Regions from separate parts of the Homo sapiens genome. Here region 2 is linked to region 1. The links come from fine-mapping of genetic effects on gene expression. A gene starts in region 1. The other region holds a variant in brackets. All regions are shown on one strand. Distances are between the middles of the regions.

Region 1 (5,000 bases):
AAATAACAAAGGCAAAAACAGAATTGATAAAGAGAGGGAAGAAAGGGAGAGGAAAAATACTACAGACGACCTGGGAACAGGGTAAACTATCTGTTGGTAGCTGACCGTGGATGTACAAATCTCTTCAAGATTGAACTGCCTTATTTTACAGGTAACAGCAACCTTGACTCACAGAGTAAAGTGACTTTGTCTAAAGCAGTTTCTCAACAGCAGCAATTCTGGTATCTGGGGCCGGGTAATTCCTTGCTGTGGGGACTGTCTTATGCACTAGATGGCGTTCAGCAGCATCCCTGGCCTTTACCCACCAAATACCACTAACCCCTTCTCCCAAACCCAAATGAATTCACACACTGCCAAATGTGGGGGGCGGAGGTGGGATAAAACCTCCTCTGCATGAGAACCACTTCTCTCAAGAAACGTCCAGTACCAGGGTAGGTGACCAAGGATTCTGTCGCCCAAGAGATGACAGAAGGCTCTAGATAAACGCACACTCCGTTGCCATTCACAAGGCGTTTTGTTTTTACTTCTCAAAAGCGGCAGAGATTTTTTTTTTGAGACGGAGTTTTTTGCTTTTTGTGGCCCAGGCTGGAGTGCAATGGCGCGATCTCGGCCCACTGCAACCTCTGCCTCCCGGGTTCAAGCGATTCTCCTGTCTCAGCCTCCCGAGTCGCTGGGATTACAGGTGCAAGCCACCACGCCCGGCTAATTTTTTTTTGTATTTTAGTAGAGACAGGGTTCCACTGTGTTGCCCAGGCTGGTCTCGAACTCCTGAGCTCAGGCAATCCACCCGCCTCGGCCTCCCAAAGTGCTAGGATTGCAGGCGTGAGCCACCGCGCCCGGCCAGAGATTCTTTTTTTTTTTTTTTTTTTTTTTTGAGACGGAGTCTCGCTCTGTCGCCCAGGCTGGAGTGCAGTGGCGGGATCTCGCCGGCCAGAGATTCTTTATAGGACATATTAGTCCTTGTCTTTCCCCCCCCGCCTCCATATTGGAAAGATGAACTAATTGAAATATGACTTAGTAAAAACATTGTGCCAACTTGAAACCTTGATTTAGTAAAACATCTCAATGTTTAGATCCTTTGTCCAATGGTAGTATTTATCAGATGTATTCAGCTTGCTCAGAAAACCAAAAGGGCATTACAACCACAAAAGCAAAGAAAAATAAGAAAACGTCCCATGTTTGGATCTTGTTCTACTTGTAAAGATTAAATTGAAATGATTAGGCTTTTCGATTCATGAGCCAAATACCGTAACACCCTGGCCTTTGATGGGTTTGGATTTTTAACATTACTCCTGAGATTTCAGGAAGTGGGGTTACAGTTACACTCCTTATAGCTGCTAAGTGTATTAAGTTGAATGTAAGGATGCATAATATTGTTTGAATTGAGCCCCACTACCAATTCTTTAAAAAATGGCATGAATTCCTATACGTAAATGATTTGGTGGAACTATTCCATCATAATTTCTAAATTGTTTATATACCAAGGTAGCCTTAATTTGTATATGTTTCAGTACAATGAAATTTTACTCCCTCTGGGATGCTGTTTGGTTTGTATTTTGAGGAATGTTTTTCTCATGGGAAGAGGAACCTATGACTTCTGTACCTAGATAATTTGTTACATTAAAAAGCTGGTCTTTCAGCAATGTAAGTATATACATACATGTTTTTATGAGGAAAAAAAAGCAGCAGAGATCAGAAGACTGCCACCGTGCTTGGAGAAGAAAGAAAGCCGCGCGTGGCCTTCGCAGTGCTCGCCGGGACTCGTAGTTCCAGGTCTGCGGGCTCCTCCCAGGCGGGGATCTACTTCCTCTCTCGGCCGCGGCCGCAGCACCCGGAAGCTGAGGGGGCTTAAAGTCTTTCGCTTCCTTTCCCCGCCTCTTAGTCCCGCAGATTGCTAGTGGATATGGCCAATAGGAGGGCTGACTGGTACTTCCTGTTATTTGATTGGCTTAAAATTTTGCAACCGCCCGGACAAACTTGCCGAGGATTGGCTGAGCCTTCAGTTTTGAAAATCATAGTTTTCGCCCGCGCTGCGCCGCCTGGTTGCTCCTCCCGTGCGGTGAGTCCCGAAGGCCCGGAGCCAAGTGGGTCTGGGCAAGCGGGGCCTTACCTAGGGATACCACCGGACTTGGATCGGAGCAGCCTTCAGGGGACGTGGCGCAGTCGAGTGAGTGCGCGTGGGCGTGGGGATTGGGGGGTGGTTCGCGATTTTTTCCCCGGTCCTCTGCTCCGTCCCTGTCGACTCCGGACCAGGGTCGTGACTCCCCACCCCAGCCCCTGGCTACCTGGGCATATGAGGGTCACCTCTTCCAAGTGGCGAGGTCGCCTGCCTTGGTTCTCGGGCCCGAGATGCCTCCCACCCTTTCCACCTAGGCCCTCAGCTTCCTAGAGCATAGCCCCGTTCCCTCCGCTCCCGGCTGCTTGGCACCTTGTGCCTGTGAGGATTAGTGTTGACTTGGACGCGCAGGAAGCCCGAAACCAACCCGGTTGTTTGGCGGAATGATGCCAGATGGCATTTCTGTGCAGTTAAACCCCTCTCTCAACGCCCCCGCCCCCAGCTGAGCAGCATTTTAAACTGACCATTTCCGGAGGCTGGGCCGCCCCTTGTCACTCCCCAAGCCTGTTCGCTGTCAGCGGTTCAGTCTCATTCAGCTAACATGGGTTGCTCGCGGGGTTGCCCAGAGCCAAGACTGGGCACCTGCCTTTCAGAAGTTGATATCTAGAAGGCGGTATAGCCAGTGGTTAAGGGCACGGTTTAAAGGCGGTATAGCCCGTGGTTAAGGGCACGGTTCTATTTATGCCCCTGATTTACCGGCTGATTTTGACTTCTCTTTGCCTCAATTTCCTCATCTGCCCATGCGTATCCTCAAGGTTGTGGTGAGAATTAAATGAGATGATGTCTGACTCGGGCATGGAGTATGACTCAGTAAATGGGAGCAGCTGCTATGCGCTTTCTGCACAGAGGTGTGGTAGGCGCCCAACTTACAGCACCCTGAAAAGGACAGGAGTCATAGAGGAGGACGATGGGGCCTTCAGTCTGGTGTATGGTGTGGAAGAAGTGTTGGAGAGGAGGAAGACTGGAGAGTGTCTTCCTCGGTGAGGTGTTGAGTGCTCTTTATCTGTGTGCAGGTGCTTACATGGGTTGAAGAAGAGATTTTTGCTGCTCTTCCAGGAGCCTGATTCTTGGTACACTGATTCCTTCTTTTTCAGGGTCACCTCTGTTTTAACTTACGGTAACCCTTTTTAAATCGTTGCGCTAAGGTCTGCTAGAAGCAAACCTCCCCGTGAAAGAAGTCCAATTGCTTTCATGGACTTTGTGAAAGAAGCTCTCATCCACGTTGCCCATTTGAACAAATACTTTTTAAAAAGTTAGCCAGTTGTTGCTTTTCTCTGCAAACCTTTGGCTTCCTTAAACAGTTTTCTCTTTTCTGGCCTGAGGTCCTGCGCTTTGCCAGGGCTGTGGTCTGGGTGCAGAAGGGTTAGGGGAAGGTGAGGGATGACAGTGAAAAGGGCTTGCCCATGATTGGCTGGCTGCAGAGCCGAGGTTTCAGCCCAAAGCCTGTACGATCCTGCCCATTTGGCCCTGCCCTGATTATTGCTGCCCTTGGCATCTGGGAACAGGGGTTTTGAACATGTGTTGGTCAGTTCTAACCTGTGCAGATTAAGTTTATTTGGTGCCCTTTGTGTGGTGGGATGAGCACCTATAGGATGTTTATTTCTAGGTGTAGAGTTGATGGGTGGATTAATTCATTTAACAAATAGTCCTTGTTGCCAGGCACTGCTGTGCTCTGGGCATTCAACGATGAGCAAGACAGACAGGGGTTTGCCCTCAGAGAGCAATTGTTTAGTGGGCAGGGACAGGCAGTAAGCAACAGGTAAACAAGCACGCAAGTGCTCTGCAGAGAATTACAATCAATGAATGGGATCATGGCTGGGGCTACTTTAGATTGGTTTTCAGGTTTTCCTGAGGATCTGAGATCCAAGCCATGAGGAGTGAGCCATACAAAATGTGAGACAATGTTCCAGACGCAGGGCAGAGCTTGTTGAGGAACAAAGACTACTGTGTCCTTGAATCAAGCCTGAGGAAGTCCCATGAGACTGAAACCTGACCTGGTGCTACGCCCTGTGAGGGATCAAGGGGTCAGCAATTTATCCCTTCCTTACAAGACCTTCCATTGTAGGTGGGAGGCTGAGTTGTGCATGGTTTTTTTTTTTTTGAGATAGAGTCTCCCTCTGTTGCCTGGGCTGGAGTGCAGTGGTGTGATCTTGGCTCATTGCAGCCTCTGCCTCCTAGGTTCAAGCGATTCTCCTGCGTCAGCCTCCTGAGTAGCTGGGATTATAGGCGTGCACCACCACACACAGCTAATTTTTTTGTATCTTTAGTAGAGACTGGGTTTCACCACGTTGGCCAGGCTGGTCTTGAACTCCTGACCTCGTGATCTGCCCACTTCGGCCTTCTAAAGTGCTGGGATTACAGGCGTGAGCCACCGTGCCCGGCCAGTTCTTGGTTTTAAAGAGGTAAGTCAGGATGGTGGATCACTGCCATTGACTTGAGGCATGCAGTTTGTTGTTATGGCTTATGACCACCACCCATTCATTTGTTCTTTCACTCATTCACCTGTTGGGATATTTAATGAGCCCCTGTTGTGATGTAGTAGAATATGGTTGTCTCTTGGAATCCTCAGGGGATTGGTTCCAGGACCTCCTTTGGATACCAAAATCCACAGATGTTCAAGTCCCTGATATAAAATGACATAGTATTTGCATATAACCTACACACATCCTCCTGTATACTTTATATCTCTATATTATTTATAACACCTAATATGATGTAAAAGCTATGCAAGTAGTTGTTATACTGTATTATTAGGGAATAATGACAAGGGAAAAGAGTCTATACATGTTCAGTACAGATGCAGCTCTTTTTCAAATATTTTCCACTGGTGGTTGATTGCATCCATGGATGTGGAACTCACAGATATGGAGGGCTGATTGTACTT
Region 2 (5,531 bases), 190 kb before region 1:
GGAGGCTGAGAAGGGAGGATCACTTGAGCTCAGGAGTTCAAGACCAGCCTGGGCAACATGGGGAGACCCCATCTCTACAAAAAATCAAAAATTAGCCAGGCGTGGTGGTGCAGGCCTGTAGTCCCAGCTACTTGGGAGGCTGAGGCAGGAGGATCACTTTAGCCTGGGAAGTCAAGGCTGCAGTGAGCTGTGATCATGCCACTGCACTCAGTCTGGGCAACACAGCAAGACCCTGTCTTAAAAAGACCAAATTAATAACAAACTTTAAGACGAAAAACATTATTAGTGTAGAGGTGGTCACTATGCAGTAATAATAAAGTGATGACAATGTTTAAAAAAAATTCACCAGATAGATATAACCATCTAAATTAATATGTGCCTAATAAAATAGCCTAAAATATTTAAAGCAAAAATAATTAAAGCTACAGGGGAAAATAGACACATCTATCATTATGGTGTGAGATGTCAACAAATGTCTCTGAACTACGGCTACATCAAGGCAGCAAAACATCAGGAGCTGGTGGCAGCAGAGACCACTGGCCTTGGTAGTAACTGAAGTATAGAGCACTAGATCAAAGCGAACCGATAAGCAATTTGATCCCTAGGTCCCCTCCTCTACTCCATGCCACTGGCCAACTGCCCCTTTCTTAGTCTAGCATAACACTGGAGATTTATTCTCTGGAGAAGGCAAAACAGAAGGTCTTTGGGCCAGTAGCTGAATAAGAGGGTTAAGTGATTATATACACACTGAAATCCAAGACCTCCAACCCTCTTCTGTCACTTGTCAGCCAAAGTGGCAACTCACTCAGTCACCAGGAGGGTAAAGACAGACTTTTACCCTCCAGACAGCCCCTCTATGGGACTCTGGCCAACCCAAGAAGAGAGATCTAAGACGAATGTTACCCAACAAAATATCCATCCAGCTCAAAGTCAACATGCTTGCCATCAGTTTTTAAGATCTCGCTCTTAATAATGAGCAATCAAGGATTATTAGACAACTAAGGAGAACCTCTACCTTAAGAGAGACCAAACCCAGTAAGCAGAAGAAAAGCAACTTGCAGGAAACAGAGACTCTGTAGAAAAAAGAAGAGGAGGTGAAGAGGAGGAGGAGGAGAAGGAAGGCAAGGAGGAGGAAGAAGGAGAGGCATTAATAACCTCAGGATGAGAAAAGAAGGTATTGCATTCATGAAATAATAACCTGATTCTATGAAAGTAAACATTCACAGAACAACAAAAACTATTGGAAAATAATATATTTTTTAAAAGCATGATGGTAGAAATGAAAACAATGAGTAAGGTTGGAAGACACAGTTGAGGGAATATCCTTCAGAAAGAAAGAAATGGAAAATAGTGAAAAGATTAGAAAAGTAGAGAATCAATTTAGAAGATTCAATATCTGAATAAAGAAGCAACAGAAGAAAATGAATGAACTGGCCAGGCATGGTGGTTCACACCTGTAATCCAAGCACTTTGGGAGGCTGAGGCAGGCAGATCACAAGGTCAGGAGTTTGAGACCATCCTGGCTAACATGGTGAAACCCCGTCTCTACTAAAAATACAAAAAATTAGCTGGGCGTGGTGGCGGGCGCCTGTAGTCCCAGCTACTCGGGAGGCTGAGGCAGGAGAATGGCGTGAACCCGGGAGGTGGAGCTTGCAGTGAGCCGAGATCTCACCACTGCACTCCAGCCTGGGAGACAGAGCGAGACTCTGTCTCAAAAAAAAAAAGAAAAGAAAATGAAGGGGGTAAAGCATCAAATAAATAATTCAAGATTATTTCCCAAAACTGAAGTATATGAGTTTTCAAATTGAAAAAGACCACCTTAGCTGGACATGGTGGCTCACATCTGTAATCCCAGCACTTTGGGATTCTGGTTTATAAAAAAATTAGTGTTATACTGTAAGATTTTTTATTTGCTTATATCAGTCTTCAAAAATATCCATTTTAATAGTTCATTCATTCAGCAGTTATTTGTTTGGTATTTCTTTGCCTGACAGTCACTCTTCCAGGCACAGGGTGTATAGCAATGAGCAAAACAAGGCCCTGCCCTATGAGGTTTACATTCTAAGCTTTATAGGGCTTACAATGTAATAAAAGACATTAAAAAGAAATAAAAGACATAAATAAAAGAGAAATCAAAGACATAAATAGAAAATAGTGATAAAGTCTTCTAGAACTTTTTTTTAACTCAACATTATATCCAAGACTTACCTTATTTTATGTAACTATAGTTCATTTTTTTTTTTTTTTTTTTTGAGACGGAGTCTCACTCTATCGCCCAGGCTGGAGTGCAGTGGCACAATCTCAGCTCACTGCAACCTCTGCCTCCAGGTTCACGCAATTCTCCTGCCTCAGCCTCCTGAGTATCTAGGATTACAGGCTTGCACTACCATGCCCAGCTAATTTTTGTATTTTTAGTTGAGACAGGATTTCACCATGTTGGCCAGG[C/T]TGGTCTCAAACTCCTGACCTTGTGATCTGCCTGCCTCAGCCTCCCAAAGTGCTTGGATTACAGGTGTGAACCACCATGCCTGGCCAGTTCATTCATTTTTATTGCTGTATAATATTCCATGATAGGACCATAACTGTGGTAGGATAAAAATGGCCTCTCAAAGATATTGAATCCTAATCTTTGAAAACTGTAAATGTTACCTTATATGAAAACAGAGTCTGTAAAGATGTAATTAAGTTAAGGACCGTGAGATGGGGAGATTATTCCAAATTATTGGAGTAGACCCTAAATGCAATCACATGTATCCTTATAAGAGGGGGGCAGAAAGAGATCTGACACAGACAAAAGAGGAAAAGGCACAAGATGGAGGAGTGTTGTGGCCAAAAGCCAAGGAGTGCTGGCAGCCACCAGGAGCTGAAAGAGACAAGAGAGCCTCCAGAGGGAGCATAGATCTACTGACATCTTGCTTTAGGCCCAGTAATACTGATTTTGGACATCCTGGCCTCCCGAATGGTGAGAAAATAAGTTTCTGTTGTTTAGAGTCACGTAGTTTGTGATAATTTGTTACAATTATCATTAAAAAAAGTAATGCAGATTTTGGAACCAAGAGTGGAGTGCTGCTGTAACCAAAACCTAAAAATGTGGAGGTAGCTTTGGAATTGGGTAATGAGTAGAGACGAAGAATTTTGGGGAGCATGACAGAAAAAGCCTAGGTTTCTTTGAACAGATTGTTAGTAAAAATATGGATATTGGCTGGGTGTGGTGGCTCACGGCAACATGGCGAAACCCTGTCTCTACTAAAAATGCAAAAATTAGCTGGGCATAGTGGTGTGTGCCTGCAGTCCTAGCTACTAGGAAGGCTGAGGCAGGAGAATCACTTGAACCCAAGAGGTGCAGGCGGCAATGAGCCAAGATTGCGCCACTGCACCCCAGCCTGGGTAACAGAGCAAGACCTTGTCTCAGAAAAAAAAAGAAAAGAAAAAGAAAGATGGCTATTAAGGCTCTACCAGTGAGGACTCAGAACAAAATGAAGAAAATGTTACTAGAAACTGAAGGAGACGAGGTCCCTGTTCTATAGAGGTAGAAAGTCTAGCTATACTTTGTCCTACAGTTGCATGGAAAGCAGAATTTGTGAGTGATGCACTTGAATATTTAGCTGAGATGATTTCCAAGCAAAAGAGATGGGATCTTCTTTTGTCATCCAGGTTGGAGTGCAGTGGCACAATCCTAGCTCACTGCATCCTCAAACTCCTGGGCTCAAGTGATCCTCCTACCTCAGCCTCCCAAAATGCTGGAATTACAAGTATGAGCCACTGTGCCTGGCCTGAGTAAATATACACACACACACACACACACACACACACACACATATGTATATATATACACACAATATATATTGTGTGCATATATACATATATTTGTATATATACATATATATGTGTATGTGTGTGTGTGTGTGTGTGTATGTATATATATATATATATATATATATATATATATATATATATATATTCTATGCCTAAAGAAAAGGATCAGATGTCAGTGCAAATGGTATAGTAGAAAACTTCAAAAGTCCCTAAGGGCTTTGAAAAGCTCCTACATAGTCCAGGGAATAGAGGTGCACATGCGTGCCTAGGGCTGGGTGCATGCTCAGAAAAGACCTGAAGGGGTCCTAAATTCCCACCTCTACCTGATCTTCAGGCTCTCTGTAAGCAGAAGACAAAGGTTAAAGCACAGTTGTAAATTGCCTGGCTTAGAGTTGAAGGTATGTGCCGACACACATACAGAGCCATTCTGCAAAGACTGGAAGATTTTTATCACTGTTCTAGGTATTTAAGAAAATCTCTGTCAAGTCATTAGCTGATCACTAAGCTAATGAAACAAAGACTTTAGTGGATATACACAAGAAAAAATACAGACTTTACAAAATTAGTTCAGAAAAGTCACCAAAAAACAAAACAAAACAAAACAAAAAAATCCCAACAAGTACTACAAGCCTCAATAACAAACTCTGGGGTGCTGGGAGATTTCAGATTTGATTTCCAGAGTTGCTACATTTAAATATTAAAAATGTCCAGTTTCAAACAAAAATTATGAGACATTCAAAGAAACAAGAGAGCATAGTTTATGTGTGGGGAAAAAATAAACTAATAGAAACTGTTAGGTCAGGTGTGTTGGCTCACGCCTGTAATCCCAGCATTTTGGGAGGCCATGAATCACGAGGTCTGGGGTTCAAGACCAGCCTGGCCAAGATGTTGAAACCCCATCTCTACTAAAAATACAAAAATTAGCTGGGTGTGGTGGCACGCACCTGTGATCCCAGCTACTTGGGAGGCTGAGGCAGGAGAATCGCTTGAACCCGTGTGGCAGAGGTTGCAGTGAGCTGAGATTGAGCCACTGCACTCCAGCCTGGGTGAGAGAGCAAGACTGTGTCTCAAAAAAAAAAAAAAAAAAAGAAAGAAACTGTTTCTGAGGAAGCACAGACATTAGACTTTATAGATAGACTTTAAATCAACTATTTTATTGTATTAGTTAATTAATTATTTTTTGAGATGGAGTCTTGTTTTGTCACCCAGGCTGGAGTGCAGGGGCACTATCTCAGCTAACTGCAACCCCCACCTCCCAGGTTCAAGTGACTCTACTGCCTCAGCCTCCCGAATAGCTGGGATTATAGGCACCTATCACCATGCCTGGCTAATTTTTGTATTTTTAGTAGAGATGGAGTTTCACTATGTTGGCCAGGCTGGTCTCAAACTCCTGGCCTCAGGTGATCCACCTACCTCGGCCTCCCAAAGTGCTGCGATTACAGGGGTGAGCCACCACACCTGGCCTAAATCAACTATTTTAAATCTACTCAAAGACCTAAAGGAAACCATGAGAACTATATCTCACTAAATATAGAGTATAAATAAAGATAAATTATAAAAAGAAAACAAATAGAAATCCTGGAGTTTTAGGTATATGCCAAGAGGAACATTTAAAAAAAAAAGAAAAAAGAGAAAAATAAATTCTGGAGTTGAAGAGTATAATAACTGAAATAAAAATTCGCTAGAGGAGGTCAATATAGATTAGAGCAGGCAAAAGA

Evidence for each region.
Region 2: its variant is fine-mapped to the expression of INCENP in atrial appendage (GTEx, PIP 0.93).

The regions. Positions count from the first base shown.
Region 1 is chr11:62,121,997-62,126,996 of GRCh38, forward strand. INCENP (inner centromere protein) reads left to right here and starts at 2,015. Exons shown (of 19, transcript NM_001040694.2): 1 at 2,015-2,167. LOC124902681 (a long non-coding RNA gene) reads right to left here and starts at 1,715. Exons shown (of 2, transcript XR_007062697.1): 1 at 1,661-1,715. RefSeq lists enhancers at 1,626-1,715, 2,246-2,315, 2,305-2,886.
Region 2 is chr11:61,930,538-61,936,068 of GRCh38, forward strand. It overlaps a transcript of RAB3IL1 not described here. Among named protein-coding and RNA genes, the nearest start is that of RAB3IL1, 16 kb to the left of the region's middle. The variant C/T (reference allele first, on the strand shown) is at 2,446.